2 separate regions of the Homo sapiens genome follow, and region 1 is linked to region 2. A link means that fine-mapping ties the variant in region 2 to the expression of a gene that starts in the linked region. Tissue or cell type: whole blood. Region 2 holds a variant in brackets; the other region holds the start of a gene. All regions are shown on one strand. Distances are from middle to middle.

Evidence for each region. PIP is the estimated chance that this variant, and not a neighbour inherited with it, causes the effect.
Region 1: it holds the start of TTYH2, and the variant in region 2 is fine-mapped to the expression of TTYH2 in whole blood (INTERVAL, PIP 0.99).

Annotation. Positions count from the first base shown.
Region 1 is chr17:74,209,421-74,218,022 of GRCh38, forward strand. TTYH2 (tweety family member 2) reads left to right here and starts at 4,151. Exons shown (of 14, transcript NM_032646.6): 1 at 4,151-4,296. The coding sequence starts at 4,168. It overlaps RPL38 (ribosomal protein L38), which reads left to right. Exons shown (of 5, transcript NM_000999.4): 5 at 384-1,235. The coding sequence ends at 409. MGC16275 (a long non-coding RNA gene) reads right to left here and starts at 3,901. Exons shown (of 2, transcript NR_026914.1): 1 at 3,104-3,901; 2 at 560-2,262. RefSeq lists enhancers at 1,073-1,122, 6,446-6,495 and a silencer at 4,028-4,187.
Region 2 is chr17:74,243,706-74,253,449 of GRCh38, forward strand. It overlaps TTYH2 (tweety family member 2), which reads left to right. Exons shown (of 14, transcript NM_032646.6): 6 at 272-344; 7 at 5,306-5,375; 8 at 5,639-5,694; 9 at 6,231-6,323; 10 at 6,560-6,652; 11 at 8,529-8,671; 12 at 9,376-9,561. Among named protein-coding and RNA genes, the nearest start is that of DNAI2, 26 kb to the right of the region's middle. RefSeq lists an enhancer at 1,177-2,071. The variant G/A (reference allele first, on the strand shown) is at 4,168.

The sequences.
Region 1 (8,602 bases), 35 kb before region 2:
GTCTAAGAATCTGCTCTTGCTGTTGGGAGTGTGAGGAATAGTTGTGATTCTCAGATTATATACAGTACCAGAAATCATTTCCTTAGCCAGAAGAGCGGTTAGAGCTCATTTAATCCTGTTCACGACCCTTCGAGGTTGGTGCTAGTACTGATAGTCCCCATTTTTTACAGGGGAACAGATGAAATATAATAGACCAAGTCTTTTTATCGAATATAATAGACCAAGTCTTTTTATCAAACACTAAATATTTTAACCGAAACTTCGCTGGTGGATCTAATTTCTGAACCTTGTGTGCTCTCTTTAGCTTAAGTACAAAATTTAGACAAGCAGCAGCAACTCAGATGTGTCTTCTGGATGGCTTACTTTTGTCTCTTTCCCTCTAGGTTTGGCAGTGAAGGAACTGAAATGAACCAGACACACTGATTGGAACTGTATTATATTAAAATACTAAAAATCCTAAGTGTCTTTCGTCTTTGCGGATGGGAAAGGGAAAAATGCTACCTCGTAGTGGCTTCTGATGGGAACAGGACGCGGGTTCTGTTGCTGCCTTCCTGTGTCTTTTTTTTTTTTTTTTTTTCTTTCTTTGAGACGGAGTCTTGCTCTGTGGCTCATCCTGGAGCACAGTGGTGCGATATCAGCTCACTACCACCTCCGCCTCCTGGGTTCAAGCGACTGTCCTGCCTCAGCCTCCCGAGTGGCTGGGATTACAGGCACACATCACCACGCCTGGCCAATTTTTGTATTTGTAGTAGAGACAGGGTTTCACTGCCTGCCTCAGCCTCCCATAGTGCTGGGATTACAGGCATGAGCCTCCGTGCCCGGTGCATCCCTAATCTTGAGCATGATCTCAGTCGGCAAATGAGGCCATCTGTTTTCAGCCTGTTTGAAAATAAGATGTGGGGAGGCCATGATGGAAATAGCACGTGGGGTTAAACATAACTGGCAGATGTGGGAGCGATGGTGGGGCATGCCATTCAAACAGGTCCCAAAATGGGTGCAACAAGGTATAGCACATCTACCACTCGCTAACTTGACTGACTTGGAGAAATGACTACACTTTTGCCTGTTTCCTCAGTTGGAAAATAGCCATATTAACACCTCTTTCATTGGCTTGCTGTCAGGGTACTGGGATGGGGGGAGGTGCATGGGTTGGGGTGGCCACCAGGTGGTGCTGTGCCACAGCGGGCAGCCCCTCTGGAAATGACTGGCATCATAAAATCTGTCTTCATACCCGAGGTAGTGTTTTTTGTTTTTTTAAGATCTCTACCTTTTAAAAGCGTGGCATACAGTGTGCTTGGTATTGTGTTAGGCATTTAGACGTGCTCAGGTTGTAAGGTTGAAGTGCCAGTCTTTGAATATTCTGTAAGGATTGTGAGGGTGTGAGGTGGTTTTGAGTCTGGTCACGGGTCTTGTTTCCTCCGGGAGAGGGTGGGTACACCAGCCCTCAGGCCCAGGTGCGGCACTGTGGGCGGCTTTCAGCCTTTCCCGTTCTGTAAGCATTGCAGATTCCCAAGGAAAAGCGAGCCTTTACCATGTGGGTTTTCTTTGTTCCCAGCACATCGTCCAGAGTTTCATCCCAGCTCCTAGGAGACAGGCCTTGCAGGGGTGTGTCCAGCCTTGTCTAGAGAAGGCCGCCTTTCATGCAGTGCTTCCCAGCCCTGGCTTGTGACTCAGTCATCTGGGGCACTTAGGCAGTTCACTGTGGTGGCCAGGGCTGACTGGAGATTGCGATTGCGGTGGTCTGGGGCATAGGTGTGTTTCCAAGCTCTCAGGTGGGCCTCTGCTTTGCTGGGGCTTCAGCAAGCCCTTAAGTGCTGCATACCAGGTGAATGGGGAGGGGGGAGGTGATGGGCTACAGCTGCTGGTGTGCCGACTGTCCTCCAACTCCCTGCTGAGTCTGTGGGAGGTCTGTCTGTTGTGCTTCAGCTTTTTGACACCTCTCTGGGTCAGCAGGCCTCCGGGGAAGCAGCTAGAATGGTCGCTGTCTGGCTGGGTGCAGGTGGGCTGACAGGTTTGGATATTCCAGGCCGCATTCCGGTGGCTGTGGAGATAGCCCTGAGGGACAGCCTTTGCAGTTTGTTTCTTCCAGTGCCGTGTGCAGGCCTCCAGCCTTCTGGGGCTCCCTTGCCCCGGGTTCAAAGTCAGTCCTCGGTGACCACCCACTGCCTAGGAGGCAGGCCCTTCCCACCTGGGGGGCCTCTGAGGGCAGGGGCTGTAAAAGCAGCTACCAGAAGAGTCCACTTTCCCCAGCAACTGCAGGGACTGAGTCAGAGACCAAGACCTTTTAAAAGGAGGTTTTCACCCAAAGAAGTTCCCTCCCCTGCCGCAGTCTCCAAGCTGATCGCCTGGCTCCTGCAGTTCTCCGGCTCCCTGTCCTGTTCTGGAACTTGCTTGCTTCCCCTTCCACTGGCCTTAGTCCCTGATCTCACAGGGTCCTGTTCCTTCTGCACAGAGGCCTCCCCCAGCACCCCCCTCTTTGACTCCCGATCATCCTTCAGCTCATGTCACTGTCCTTTGGGAAACAACCCTGACGCCCACCTTCCATCCCCTCTCCCTACAGCAGGGACTCTGACATTTCACAAGGCCTGCAATCGCTGTTTGCAGGATACAAGTCCACCTCACCTCGCCTACTAGGCTGTAGACGCCATGCAGGCGGGAACGTGTGTTTTATCCATTACTGTATCCTCTAGAACAGAGAACGTGCTCAAGAAAATTTGTTGAAAGACACCCCAATGAGAGAAGAATGGCTGTTTCCAGCCTTCCGGGCCCCTCAGCTTTGGGCTCCTGCAGGGCCCCAGAACCGTGGGATCACGGCCACGAGGAGAGGCCCCGAGGCCAGGACTTCCTCTAATGGACACAGGGCCTTTGAGCACCGGGTGACTGGGGCCCCACTCCCCAGCAGCCATATGTGTTTGCGAGCGTTTTCAGTCGGTCCGCATCCACCCGGTCCCTTCAGCCAGAACCCTAGGAGCCCCGCCCCGTCCTCCCGGGGCTCCTTTCTCACCCGCGTCCCTGCCGCGGTGGATACGCACCCCTCAGGCTGGCTGCCCAGCGCGGTTTCCACGCCCAATCTGCCGCGACCCCATCACTCCACCGCACCTACCCCTGACTCCTGCTTGTCCTGCAGCCTGGGCTCCTCCCTCCGCTGGCCAAGTCACGCCAAGCAGTTTGCGGTTACAGGACGGGTGGGGGCCTCTGCATATGTGCAGAGTACGGAGGGCCCAGGGACGCGAGGCTCCCCGATGGGCAACCTCCCCTGCCTTTGCTTTTCCCCAGAGCCCCCTCCTGGCCTGCGTTCGGCATCTTCTCGGGTCGTCATCGCCCTCTGCGGTGCCTGCGCTCGGGGTGAGGGTTTTTGTCGGCTTTTGTTACATCACCGATGTAACAGTGCCTGGACGTAGTAGGTGCTCAATAAATATGTTGTTGAATGCGCTTCAGTCTCCCCGAATGCTTGTCCCTTCCGGGCGCTCTCATCGCTCTCCTACCTTCCCCGCTACACAGCTCGAAGGTCCCCTCCTCCGGGAAGCTCACCCTGTCCCACTTGCCAGGAAGAATCAAGCAAATTTTCTGAGTGAGACACCTTGTCCTCACTCAGGCGTCCTGCAGGCGGCTTCAGCGAGTTGTTGGGGCAGATGCGCCGGGAGCTCCCGAGGGCAGGGACGGCGTCTTATTTCTCTTTTTAAGTCCACAGGGCTTGCACAATAGATGCCCAAAAAATGAGAGTGAATTTAGAATGAGTGACCGAGTGGCTGAAGATTGCCTCCTTCCTTTCCCAGTCTGTCGGTTACTTACCCTGTGACAAGCCCTTGGGACGGGCAGTCGCCCCTCTCTGGCCTATGACTGCTGGCTGCCCCCACTGACACCTTATACCCTTGATCTGATCATAAATAAGAAGCAGCCCGGGGACCTCGAGACTGAAACTGATTTAGAGACTTCTGGGAGCTTTTTTCACTTCCCTCCTCCCATCCGGCCAGGACAGATCCCCGCCCAGAAAGGGGCTGTTGACTGCAGCGGGCTGCGCGCCCAGAACTGGGACTGGGATCGCGGCGGGGCGGGGCGGGCGCGGGCCCAGGGAGAGGCGGGGCCGGGGGCGGGGCGGGCACGGGGCCCCGGCCGGGAGGTGAGCGCAGCTGTCGTTCAGCTTGTGGGTAGCACTCGGGCCGAGCCATGCAGGCGGCGCGCGTGGACTACATCGCTCCCTGGTGGGTCGTGTGGCTGCACAGCGTCCCGCACGTCGGCCTGCGCCTGCAGCCCGTGAACAGCACCTTCAGCCCCGGCGACGAGAGTTACCAGGAGGTAAGTTTACGCCGCCCCAGACCGCAGCCACGCGCGCCCCAAGTCCCCGCACTACCCCCTCTCCCCTCGAGAGCCTGCACTTTCCCACGTGCCTCTCAGACCCCTTCTCTCCCCGCGCAGCCCTTTCCCGTCTCCCCTCTCCCCTTTTCCCCCACCCTCCCAGGCCCGTGGCCCGCGTCCCCTCCTGTCTGGGAACCTGGGGGCCGGGAAAACTGAAGAGATCAGAGTGAAGCGAGCGTGGGGAAGGGGAGGAAGGGCGCAAGACCGCCTGCGGGGTGAGGGGCTGAACGCTGAGCGGGCAGGGCGGCGCGGGGGAGGGGTAAGGACAGGGGCATTCGTCTCGGGGTAATCCTGGCGCGCGAGGTGCGGGGATGCTGAGGGGTGCCCCGAAGTTTTCGACCGTCTGAGATTCCAAGATGGGGCGCTCTCTTTCCGGGGCTGAGTGGCCTAGGAAAGTTTGGCAGAAACTGAGTAGAGTCTCCCGAGTCGGTCTTCGCAGCACCCCTCCTCCCCAGCCCCGGCCTGCAGGGTGGGAGTCTCAGCTGGAAGGCTGCAGGGCTTGGGGAAGCGGTGTGGGTCACTTCCCCTCTAGCGCAGAGAACCCACAGCTGCTTGCGCTTGTTCCAGGGAAGGAAGGTGGCCTCCGTCAGCCCATCTCACACTGTTGTCCTGAGGACCCCCTTGCATTGACAGTCAGCTTCTCTGTGTCCCCTGGTCCTAGACTGGCCCATTCCTGTTCCCCCACGCCCCTCTCTCTACCTCACACCTTTAAGCCCTGAATTTCTGGCCTAGGGCAGTCACTCCCGGCTTCCCCGCCCTTTCCCTACTCTGCTGACCCTTGGCAGGATTCTGCACCCCACAAACAGGGCCAGGGCTCCCCAGACCTCCCTGCCCAGACAAACAAAGCTGCAGAATCTCCCAGCCCGTCTCAGGTCTGGTCACGCCTGCTCTGGCCCCGGGAGCCCACCTGTATCAGTTCCTTGTGTTGGGTCAAAGATTCTGGGGCCAGTGGACCAGGATGAGGTCCATTTATTCAGAGCCAGGCGCCCATCTCAGGACTTTGGCCCCCGGCGGCCTCTCCCTGTGTCAAGTTCTCCAGATATGGGACAGATCAGGGCAAAGCAGGGCCTCTTGGAGGGAATCCTGATCCAGTGTGAGGTGCCCAAGCGCCAGTGACAGGGAGTCTAATAATAACCCCTGACGACCCGGCTGCCATCAGGCCCAGGCAGATGGTGCCTGCCCTACCAGAGGGAGGGGAGCATCAGGACCCCTTCCTGGGGTTCAGTGGGCACTCAGGAGCAAGACGGCAGTCGGTGGACCCACCCCCCTCCCCCAGAGCCCAGCCTGTGGGAGTCTGTGTTCCCTGAGAATGTGGCTGCCTGGGGATAGCTCCAGGGAATCTTCCTCTCCCAGAGAATGCATGAAAAGAGGCGGATATGATTTCAGAAACAGCCGTGTGTGTGTGTGTGTGTGTGTGTGTGTGTGTGTCCCCATCCCAAACCCTGTGCCCCACATCCCACACCCGGGGTCTCCAGCCATAGTTTTCTCCTCTCCACTGGAGGAAATCTAAACTTTTCATTGGGTCAAGAAGACCCCTAGGTGGGGGTAGGGATGGTAAGGGGACTCCCTCACCCTGATGGCCCCAGAGACAGTTCCTATCAGCCCAACAGCTGTGGCTGGTGGATCCTGGGCCTGCCCACAGCCCCCTCAGTCCCATGGGCAGGTGGCAGTTGAGCCAGATGAACCTACCTCCAGCCTCTGCCCCTCCTCCCAGGATTCTGGCCCCGGCTCACTTTGTGCTGGGCATCAAATGGTTCCAGAGGGTGTCCCTTCCCATCGGCCACTGCTCCTGGGCAGCTGACACCAGCCCTGCCCACTGGCTCCTGGTCCCGCTCACCCCCTCACCACCACTCAGATCGCTGAGTAGGAGATGAGCGTGGTGGGCCAGGACCGGAAGTCTGGCTCTGGGTGTTATTTAAGGTGGCTCCTGTTTTTGGTAAGTTCCCCTGTTGTGACCACAGGTCTCTCCTGGATGTCTTCTTTCCTCCTGAGCACCAGTCACTAACAGAGTCAGGTGGACCGTCGGTCATCCCAGTCTTCAGCAAGCTTGACTGGAGCAAGTGCTATGCCAGGCGTGGGGTGACCGTGGTAACCAAGGCAGCAGGTCTTCAGGAGAAATTGCTGGGGATTTTCTGCGGCTGGGCTCTGGGCGCAGTGCTATGGCAGACACCAAGCAGTTTGAGGTGGGGCTCTGCCCTCCAGTTGGCTGGGGTGGATTCCCAGTTCTTTCCATGTGTGACCACGGGTAGGTGTCTTAACCTCTCTGAGCCTTGTTCCCTTCATCTGCAAGAATTAGATGAGATATTCCACATATCATGCCTAGTACAGAGAGTCCCATAGCACATAACAGGAGCCAGTGACACAGATCATTCAATGGAGTGGCTGAGAGGTTCAGGAGTGTGTCTCAGGACAGTACCCTGCTGGGGAATGGAGAGGAAGGAGATCTCTTCCACAGACTCTGATTGGGGGAGACTGAACAAAACGCCTGCAGAAAGGGCTTCAGCTCATGCCCCACATGTTCAAATGCACAGTGCTGGCTGTGTGGGGTGTGGGGGGTGGGTGCGTGTGCATCAGAGACTAAGCAAGGATGGAAACAGGCAGGTGCTGGCCTTAGGATGTGGGTGGTGCGGGGGATCTCAAAGGCAAGGGGGTTCTTGGAAGTGCAGAGATGGTGAAGAGCAGGTCACCTGGTGAGCTGGGATTTCCTGAGCAAGTTCAGTGTTCCAGAACCTTCCTGAGGAAGTAGGGGCTCTCACTCACTTTCTGGGGTGTTTGGGAGCCGTGAAAGCCCCCAGTCCTCCTGATAGTTGATCCTCACCCCTCTCCCCCCAGTGAACTTGAGCCCAAGTCCTCGCAAAGGCCACTTGGCCTGTGTCACCAGCCTTGTGGGGAGGCTACCCTCCAGTGAGTAGAGGCATGAGAGGTGAGCACCAAGGCAGGGCTGTGGACGAGGGCACCTTGGCCCTGGCGGGCACCCAGCTCTGGGCTGCCAGATGTGGCTGTATGTCTGGAAGGAAATCAGCCTAGACCTGCAGCCCAAGTCTTCTCACCTTTGACAGATGAGGGGGATTGGATTTGGAGACGATTCCTACTCTAAAGAGATGATAAAAGAACTAATGAGTTCATGGATTATGAAGCCTGTGGCCAGTGCCTGGCACACTGGAAACTGCTACAATCACTGCTTAGGAAGGAGAAGACTGCAGCCAGCCGGTGTCCACTGGGCAGTGTTGGGGAGAAGGGAATGGGCACCTGGCACTGAATCCAGCAATGTCTCTCTGAGCAAATGAACGAGGCACTTCGGTGTCCCTGCCTGAGCGTGAGTGCCACCATCACCATCCAGCCAGCCCCTCAGGGGAGACCAGACACTGATGAGCTCAGTTCTTGAAACATCTTAGTAAGCTCCCAAAGGCTGTGCAAATGTTAGTTATTGCTACTGTCAACAGGCAGGTGGCCACATGTGTGCTTCCTGTTCCAGCTTCCCTTGCCCAGGATCAGCCGACCAGCTGCTCTTTGGGGACATGTGTTAGGAGGCAGAGGAGATGTTGTTAATTTTTTTTGTATTTAGGCATGTATTTCCACGTGTTCTCTCATTGGTTGGTTCCGTTCATAGATTCGCCAAAGTACAAAGTGGAGGGTACACAGTTGGGGACTGGACCGGAACTACAGGACTTCCTGCTTCTGACCTGGGGGCAGGTCTGAGGAAGAAGGACCAGGCAGCAAGCCCATCCCAGCCGAGATCTGAGAAGAGCTGAGGTTGGGATGAGGAAGCCCCATTCATCCAGTGTGAAATTGAGTCACGGTCATCAGACAGTCATGCCGCGCCTGGGAGAGGGCTTAATCTTTCCCAGTGGGCCTGGGAGGGAGACTCTCCCTCTAGGTGCTCCTAGTTTCCCTCTCCCAGCCTCCCCCTGAGACCGGCACACCTCTCTCTATGTCTTCTGGGGCCAGGGCTGTTGCCCCCTCCCCTGCCCAGTGCAGAAGCCCCTTGGGTCCCGCTGCCATGGTCACTGCGGCCCCCAACTTGGGTCCCAGCTTGGCACTCTCCGCTCTGGGTTTTTCATGACACAGTGACAAATCAGAAATAATTGAAGTCCCTTTGATGAGGGGAGAGGCAGAGTCTGAGCACCAGTGTGGGAGCTGGGGGCCTGGTGTTGCTGTGGGACAAGGAGGTGGCTGCAGGGCACAGTGGGAGGCGTGGGGAGGCGTGGGAAATTGTCTTGGCAAAGCTCTGTCCATCTGAGCAGGG
Region 2 (9,744 bases):
GAGCAGCTAAGAAACATGGGTCCGTGCATGAAAGCCTCTGGCCGTCTTAGCCAACACTGCCCCCTTAGCCTGTGCTCTCACGCCTGGGTCTCTTTAGCCTCAAGGACCTGGGCTCCATGGTCCTTTCCTAGTAGTGAGCAGGGCCCACGTCAGGGCAGGGACTGAGGCTGCCTTTGGATCCATTGCAAGGGTCTGGGGGCAGGGTGGGTGGGGTGATGGCTGAGAGGAAGGGGACCCCGCCTGCCAACGTTGTCGCCTGCCTCTCTCCTAGGATGCTGTGCTGTGGGGCACTGAGCCTGCTCCTCAGTTGGGCATCCCTGGCCGCTGATGGCTCTGCGGCAGTGGTGAGTTGGGGGAGGGAGTGGGTGGTGGGTGGTGGTTGGTCTGCCAGGACACTCTGGTGTGTCTCCAAGCAGGGCCAGCTTCCGGTCCCAGCTCCTAACCTAGAATCCCAGAATCTCAGAACCAAAGGGACTTGCGTCATCTGAACCGGCCCCTCTCGTTACAGATGGGGAAACAGGCCCAGAGAAAGGAAGGGGACTGCCCAGGGTCAGAGCCAGGATAAGACACTCATGCTTCATACCCAGAGAGAAGCCCCCGGCTGCCCAGGCATGCTTAGGCTTACACGTGCTTAGGCTTAGGCGTGCCTGGGTGACCAGGGCGCTTCTCTCTGGGTGTGAAGAACTGACCGGGTCTCCTGAGAATGGGTAGGGGTCCAAGCCTCAGACTGGGGAATCCCTCCCGCATCAGAAGCTGCTGCTTTGCCAGCTCCCCAGGCCCTGGGACTGTAGAATGTGGTGTCTGACTTGCCTTCCATCCCAATGTCCCAGGACTCCCGCGGTCTGAAGCACACATGCTGTATGTTTCTGGATGTGATGTCTCAAAATGGCTTAAAAAAAAAAAGTTGGGGGCTTCCTATGCGGGTCCACATGATCTTTAAAGGACCTAACACTGGCGCTAAGCTGTGTGCATGAGGCTGTTCATTCACTCAGCTGACATTGTTTGCTGGGTGGCACTCGATGGTACAAGTTGCCTGGGGTTGCGGAAGCCAAGAGGACGTGATGTTTGCTGTTGACAAAGTTCCAGCCTTTGGAAGCAAGACTCATAGGCAGATCACTGCAACCCCAGGCTTTGATACAGTGGAGGTGCAGTGTGTGTGTGTGTGTGTGTGTGTGTGTTTGTGTGTGTGTGTTCATGCACATGCACGTGATAGAAGAGAACACAGTTTACCAGGGGAATTCAAGGAACCCCTCACTGATTCAAAGTCCACAGACTAACCCTGGGACATGCATCTGTTCTGCCATAGTGACCTGAGGCTTGATAGGATAAGATGGGGGTGGCTTGTACAAGAAGCTCCCTAACCACACTCACACCTCGTCCAGTGACTTGGGGGCTGGCCACTAGCTCTGGGCGTGGACACAATGCCCTCAGGGACTCTGGCACTGCCTGACTTAGCACCTTAGGCAGAGGCTTGTGCAGAAGGGAGAAGAGGGGGCATTTTCTGTCTTTGCCTCCTGCCACCCCAGTGCAGTGACCACGGACCAAGGAATGGTCGAGAAAAGGCCCAAGTCATGTTTGAAAGCATGCAGGAGCTGGGACGGCTGTAAACAGTGCCACTGCTGGCCAGGGTGATGCAGGCAGCTGCCTGGCCTCCAGCCTCTCCTCTGGGGCCAGGGCCACGCACAGGGAAGCTGCAGGGAGCACACGGCGAACTCCTCCAGGGCCCCATCCCGCTTTCTGGGCAGCCTCTGCCTTCTGGAGGCAGCGGTGGCTTCCAGCTTGCCGCTGTGAGCTGCCCTGTGGTGGCCGCCCCTCCCAGTGGGGGCTCCTCCCTCTCACCAGGCTTCAGTGTTCACGAAAACCAGAGGCCATTTAATCTCCCAGCTGGGCGCCCTGGAATGCGGGGAGCTGGGGAGAAAGGCCATTTCCCTAATTCCTCTAGTCAGGCCCCTGAGTGCGAGATGGGGAGCAGGCGGTGGAGCTGAATGGGCTTTTGACGGGCTGGAGATGCTGCTGCATTTTAATAGGAAGCCGGGTGAGGAGGAGCCAGGAGGGCGGGGAGGGCGGCCGGCTGTCCCGGGGTTGTTGTGGAGAGCTTTTGTGTGGCCTCCCAATGCCACCCTGCTCTCTGAGGCCTGTTTTGACAGCCATGGGGCCAGAGGATTGACAAGGCCTCCCTTCCCCACCCCCGACCCCTACCCCTCCCTGTCCCTAGAAAGGACTCCATGAGGACAGAGCACTGCCCTGGAGATCTGCTCTGGGTGAGGCAGGGAGAGGAGGGAGCAGCGGAGCTCCAAGCTTCCAGGCCCTGGGGCCACCCCTCGTGGTCAGCACTGCGAGTCAGGAGGTGTCTGGGGTGAGGGGCTAGAGCAGGCAGAGAGGCTGGGAAGCCCTGGAAGAAGGAAGGGGAAGGAAATGGGTTCAGCTGTGAGGGAGGAGGCAATGGCTGTCACAAGTGCTTTGGCCACCGAGCCTGGGGACAGAGAACTTCAGGGGATTCCTCCAGCTAAGGGGCAGCCAGGCCTGCCCCTGAGTCAGAGGGTGGGAGTGTGGCCTCTGCAGCCACCCTGTCTGGGCCCACATCCTCCCTTCACCCCTTCCCAGCAGTGGAAACCCAGGAAAGTTCCTGAGGTTTTCTGTGCCTCAGCTTCCTCCTAGGTGAACACAGAGAATAACAGGACTTACCTCAAAGGGCTGTTGCTAGGGAAAGATGAGTGGGTTCATCCTGGGAGGCACACAGAAAATGTCCAATAAACAGTGGCCACCACTGGCTTCCTGTGCATTCATCGTCATCATGCTAGGGTCACGGGGGTCCCTTCAGACCCACACCTCCATTCTCAGGAGCTGCCTGCAGGCTCAGCCATCACCTGGGCTGGTTACTGGGCAGCCTCTCCCACCTGCCCCAACTATGCTCAGTGACCTCCTTCCTGTCCCCTCTCCTGCCATCCCTATCACCATGGCATGAGTAATGCACACGTGTATTAGTCCATTTTCACACTGCTGATAAAGACATACCCAAGACTGGGCAATTTACAAAAGAAAGAGGTTTGATTGGACTCACAGTTCCACATGGCTGAGGAAGCCCCACAATCATGGTGGAAGGCAAGGAGGAGCAAGTCACGTCTTACATGGATGGCAGCAGGCAAAGAGAGAGGACGTATGCAGGGAAACTCCTGTTTTTAAAACCATCAGATCTGCCAGGTGTGGTGGCTCACACCTGTAATCCCAGCACTTTGGGAGGCTGAGGCAGGGGGATCACCTGAGGTCAGGAGTTCAAAACCAGCCTGACCAACATGCCAGAACCCCATCTCTAGTAAAAATACAAAATTAGCCAGGCATAGTGGTGCATTCCTATAATCTCAGCTACTCGGGAGACTGAGGCAGGAGGATTGCTTGAACCCGGGAGGTGGACGTTGCAGTGAGCCAAGATCACGCCACTGCACTCCAGCCTGGGCGACAGAGTGAGACTCTGTCTCAAAAAAAAAAAAAAAAAAAAATCAGGTCTTGTGAGACTTATTCATTATCAAAAGAACAGCGTGAGAAAGACTTGCCCCCGTGACTCAGTTACCTCCCACCAGGTCCCTCCCATAACATGTGGGAATTCAAGATGAGATCTGGGTGGACCATTTCGACATGCACACACACAAGGGCATCACACACATACATGCACACGCACACAGGTGCTTGTCTTCATTAATAGGAGAGTTGACTCCTCACTGAGTCCCACACCCCAAACCATCCTATGCACCTATCCCAGGAGATGGAGGCTCCAGGGTGGCCAAGGGGTGTGAAGAGCAGGCCTGGCCTGGGAGGGGAAGGAGGAGAGAGGCAGGAGGAAGACCATGTCACTGTGGAGCCTTGGACTGGAGCCTCCTGTCCCTCTCCTTTCTTGGTTCCCAAACTTCTTGGGGGTGACCCAAACTGAGATGGTGGCCTCGCTCTTTATTTCCCCAAGGCTTCCCCATCCTCCACTTGGGCCTGGCTGCACTCTCTGTCACTCCAGCCAGGGGGTGGGGGCACACCACCAGGCCTGCTGGCGCCGCAGCTCTGATAGGTAATAATAGGCCAGGTTGATGTATTATGAATGCTGGTGGTTTGTGTATAAAGCATTTCTCCCAGGGTCTTAAGTGCGTGCGTGCGTGCGTGCATGCGTGTGTGTGTGTGTGC[G/A]CGTGCGTGCATGTGGGGCTCTCGGGAAGCTCTGTATCTGGAGGGGTGTGTTATTCCGCACCCTCGCTATACACACATTTTCTAGACCGTAAGTGCTGTGATGCACTAACCTCTAGGTGCTAGAACCCTGCACGGCACTGAGTAAGTACTCCATAAATGTCTATCAACTTAGCAAGTTAGTGAGTGATGCTCTATTGTGGACCCCTGAGGCAGTGGCTCCTGAAGGAGGACGGGGCCACCGGCAGAGCAGGGCACTCAGAGGGGTCCCCTGCCCGGGGAGCATGTGCCAGAGGAGGGGGACATCCCTAAGGAACAGGCCAGAGGACCTGAGCTCTCCCTGGCTGCTCTGGAAGGCGGAGGCCCCCCAGTTTATCCAGTCCCTAGAGCACCCCAGGCCAGATCTGGGGTGCGCCTGGCTTGGAGGCCATGTCCTTGCTGCCGCCTCTCCTGGGGCCTGCGTCTGCTCCCACCCTGCCGCATGGGCCTTAGCAATCACTTAGCCAGGCCGTGCTGTGGGGCCAGGTCCTCCAGCTCATAAGTGGCAGCCGCCTCTCAGCTCCATGCCCTTCCCACCCCATGTCTTGGCAGGTGAGCACCTGCACCCAAGGCTCACAGATGCTTCAGCACCAACCTCATTCTTTAGAAAGAGTTTGGGGGAGGCTTCATAGATTGAACACCCGTCCCTGTAGCACTTGATCATAGCAAGACAAAATGTAAAACAGCAGATGAGGCCATGGTGTAACGAACTCCCACACACACAGCCTGCAGCTGCCCTGGGGCCCAGGATGCTGGCCCCCAAAGGTCTGTCCCAGAAGAGGCATTCGGGAATAAGAGTAACAGCATGCGCTCTGCCCCAGTCACTTTTCTGAGCACTTTACTTGCATTGGGTGAATAGCATTATCATCTCCATGTCACAGATGAGGCAACCGGGGCACAGGAAGAATAAGTAACTTGTCCAAGGCAACAGAGCTAGGAAGGGGCAGAGCCAGGTTTGAACCCAGGAGGCTGGCTCCAGACTGTCCTTTGCCACCTGGGAGGGAGCTCAAGGGGCTGGGGTGATGGGCTCCCGGCTCCTCCCAGGGCCCCGCTGTCCTGATACCTGATTTTCCTCCACCCCGTCCCTCTCTCCCTCACTCAGGCCACCAGTGACTTCTGTGTGGCTCCTGACACCTTCATCCTGAACGTCACGGAGGGCCAGATCAGCACAGGTAACTACACACTCTCAGGCTGCTGCTGTGGATGCATAGGTGGCCGGACTCTGTGCCCCTACTTACCTCTTTCAGCCCTGTAGCCATCCAACCCCTCCTCAACCCTGAACTTCAAGTCCAGCTCATGCTCTAGGCCATTTCCTAGAAAGTGCCTCCCTTGGGAGCTCAGGGACGGGGAGGGAGGTCTGGCTTGGCCACCAAGGATGATAGAGATCTCATCTGGTCATTTGTGAGCTGCCTAACGTTATGCCGTTGCCCTGCAGAGGTGACTCGCTACTACCTGTATTGCAGCCAGAGTGGAAGCAGCCCCTTCCAGCAGGTATGGCCCCCCGAGGCCTGCCCTCACCCTGCCCACAGCCGCTCCCCCTTGACCCTAAGCCTCACCACTGACCAAGATGGCGGAGGTGGCAGGGCCTTGCTTGCCTCACTGTGGTCCTCTCCTTAGCTGCTTCTGTGAGGGGGGCGTGCTTTTGGTCGTGGGTTCTAGATTGGTGGTTAACACATATGCAGCTCAATGCGGGAGCTAGTTCCCATGCAGATGCTGTCCAGGAGCTCTGGGGTGGGGCCGAGATTCTGTACTACTCACAAGCTCCCAGGTGAGGCCAGGGCTGCTGGTCCAAAGACCACATCTGAGCTGCAAGCAGGGAGAAGACTGTGCAGCTCTCAAGAAGCCAGAGGAGTAGGGGGAGACTTCCTGCAAGTGGAGGGGCCTGTGCAGCTGCAGCCAGGTGGGGGGGTGGGAGGGGCAGGAGCATAGGCCCCTCAGCCACTGTGGGGCTCCTGGGAGACGGAGCCTCACTGTGGGGCTCCTGGGAGACGGAGCCTCACTGTGGGGCTGTGTCTTTCCTGGCTCAGACCCTGACCACCTTCCAGCGCGCACTTACCACCATGCAGATCCAGGTCGCGGGGCTGCTGCAGTTTGCCGTGCCCCTCTTCTCCACTGCAGAGGTAAGGCAGCTGTGCAGGAAGAGGGGAGCCCCAGATGAACCCTGACAGCCCTTTCCCCTGCCCCGGCCCCAGGGCCAGGCTGTGCACAGCTTGCTGCTGGCTCTCTGTTCTCCCGCCCCCGTGACTCGGCTCCCTCCCTTGGCTCTAGAGGCCCCTGAGCACAGCTGCTGTGGTGGTTTTCTCCGCCAGCTCTCCTCCACAGCCCCTCGGCCTCTCTCGCTCTCTTCCCGCTTCAGGAAGACCTGCTTGCAATCCAGCTCCTGCTGAACTCCTCAGAGTCCAGCCTTCACCAGCTGACCGCCATGGTGGACTGCCGAGGGCTGCACAAGGTGCATGGGGACCCTGGGGTCACGTGGAGAGTGTGAGGGCACCCAGCAGGCCACACCTTCCAGAGAAAAGCCGGTAGAGGCCGAGGGGAGCGATGGCCTGGGTCCCCTTCCGGCCCAGGAATGGAACTGAAGCCAGATAATGGGAAGGGAGGGGGTGCCTGGCTTCTCCAGGGGCTGAGACAGGGAGACTCAGTACAAGGGACCAGGGGTTCGGGATGGGAGGGTTGGATGCGGTTGGCTCTGGGTCACTGGGGGACCCTGAACAATGCAAGGGAGGCTGTTCCCCATTGTCCAGACTCCTAGCCATTTCCTCAACACATCTGTCTCCCTGGGTTGCAAGTGGATGTCCCAATCCCATTGCCAGAGTCTTCTTTCCAGGAACTTGGAATATCAGACAGACACAATGATGCAGGGAACACATGGGGAGCACGTGAGAGCCCCCCACCCAAAAGCAGTGAGCCAGTGTATGGCGACAGCTTTCACATCCCAGATGGATTTAGTGCAGACAGTCTTTGTCATCATCACAGCTGTCAGCTCCATGCTTGGCCCTGTTCTGTGCATTTTATATCCAGTATGTCATTCAGTTCTCACAGTTATACTGTGAACCACACGTTATTTCCTAGGAAATTGACTTGCTTGTGCGTGTGTATGGATAGATCCATAGATACAGCTATGTGTGTGTGCACGTGCGTGTGTCTGTGTGTGTGTGCGTGTGTGTGCACTTGTGGTGTATATGTCTGTGCGTGTGTGGTGTGTTTCTGCGGTTGTGTGGGTGCACATATGTGATGTGTGTATGTATGTGTGTGGTATGTGCATGCTTGTGCGCATGTGTGCTGTGCATGCGTGTGTGTGGTGCATGTGTATGTGCCTGTATGTGTGTGTGGGGTGTGTGGTGTGTGCGTGTGTGTGGTGTGTGCATGTCTGTGATGTGTGTGGTGTGTGTGCATGTGTGTTGTGTGCACATGTGTGCACATGTATGTGGTGTGTGTGGTGCATGTGTGTGTGCATGTGGGGGGTGCATGTGTGTGGGGGGTGTGTGTGCGTGTATTTATAAAGTGGCTTACTGAAGAGTCCCGAGTTGGCACATCAGGGGCTTGGGTTTAGATCCTGGTAGTCTGACCTCAGAGCTAAGAACATGGCAGTCACCCCTGTCTCCTCTCTTCTTCCCCTTCTACATCTAATCCCCAGCAAGTCTTGGCAGCTCTCCTCTCAGCTGTACCCTGAATCCATCCATTTCTCTTTCTCTCCATGGCTTCCACCACGATCCGGTCCTGCCCCTCCAGCAGACAGTGGCCTCTTCCCACTTTCTCTTGCCCCCTCACCACCCATGAGCTTTCACACATGCAACCAGAGCAGTCCTTTTGCAGACTAGGTTGGATCACATCCCTTCCACTCCCACACCCTCCAATGTCTTTCTGACTCCTTTTAAAAGTCCGTACTCCTCTCCCGCATTGCAAGGCCCAGCACGACCCAGCCCCTGCTGGCCTATGTTCTCTCTCTTTCCTGAACAGGCCAAGCCTGTCCCCTTTGCCCCCTCTTCTCAAGGTGTGCTGCTTCTTGCCATCCTGGCCTCAGCTTCAGTGCCCCCGTCTCTGGTTCCCCACCCTGCAACCTCCTCCGCCCTGTTCAGAGCCAGCTTCTTAGTGCCCAGCTCACAGTAAGTGCTCAGCAAATGTTTCCAGCGTGAACCCAAGAAGCCCCATTGTGTTAGGCTCCAGAGTGTGGACCTTTAATGGTGCTGCAAGGCGCTCGGGATGGGGAGCAGCCAGGAGACCCCAGGTCCAGGCTCGGGGGAGAGGGACTTCCAGAGGAGAGCTCGGCCCGCAGGCTTTGCCCCCGCTCCTTCACTAGCTGCATGTCCCTCCTCTTCCTCCAGGATTATCTGGACGCTCTTGCTGGCATCTGCTACGACGGCCTCCAGGGCTTGCTGTACCTTGGCCTCTTCTCCTTCCTGGCCGCCCTCGCCTTCTCCACCATGATCTGTGCAGGGCCAAGGGCCTGGAAGCACTTCACCACCAGGTGGGCTGCCTAGTAAGGAGGGGAGCCTCCCACAGCCTGGAGTTCTGGGAGAGCAGCAGACAGGGGCCTCTGCTCTACGATTTAGCTGATAACCCAGGACTGAGGAGGGCAGCAGAGGGCCCGGGCATTCAGCCCAACAGGCTGGCTGACTTCTACAGAAGCTTCCCCAAGAGTCCACACAGACCCTCCAAAGGAGTTCGGTGGGGCCCAGAGCAAGAGCTGGGGCCCAGGGTGGTGACAGCCCTCAGGCCACAGTCTGGCCTCCCTTCTCCTCTCTTCTCACCAGGACTTTGCGATCTGGAATGAGGAGAGTTCTTGGTGCTGGGAGGGGTGCCCCAGGAATAGCAAGAAGGATACATGGGGTCACTGTTTTCAGGGAGCCTGCAGTCCCCTTGAGGAGATGGGCAGGGACACATGGTGTACAGGCACCTGGTGAGCGGATTAGGCAAGAGGACGCAGGGTAGTGGGGACCCACATGCGCATGGTCAGCGTGGTGGGGAGCCTGGAAGAGCTGGTCGTGAAGCTGGGAATGGGCCAGAATGATCTGCAGGAGGCAGGCTGGGGACCGCGTTTTAGAGGAGTCTCAAGGAGACACGCGTGGCCAGAGAGTCCTGGGAGGAAAGGCAGGGAAGTAGGACAGGACCTGGCTGCCTCGGAGCCTCCTTCACCCTTCACAGCCGGCCATCTTCTACCCATTGTTCTAGAAACAGAGACTACGATGACATTGATGATGATGACCCCTTTAACCCCCAAGCCTGGCGCATGGCGGCTCACAGTCCCCCGAGGGGACAGCTTCACAGCTTCTGCAGCTACAGCAGTGGCCTGGGAAGTCAGACCAGCCTGCAGCCCCCGGCCCAGACCATCTCCAACGCCCCTGTCTCCGAGTACATGTACGGCCTGCACACACACCCAGGCTGGGTAGCACTGCCCGGACAGCATGTTGGGTGGGGTCCACAGTGCCGGGTGTGGGGAGGAAGGCATCCAAGGCCACCCGTGGTCCCCACTACAGCCACAGGGTGCCTGGAGGGAAGGCCCCCGGGGAGCATCTAGTCACCCCTCCACACCCACATGTG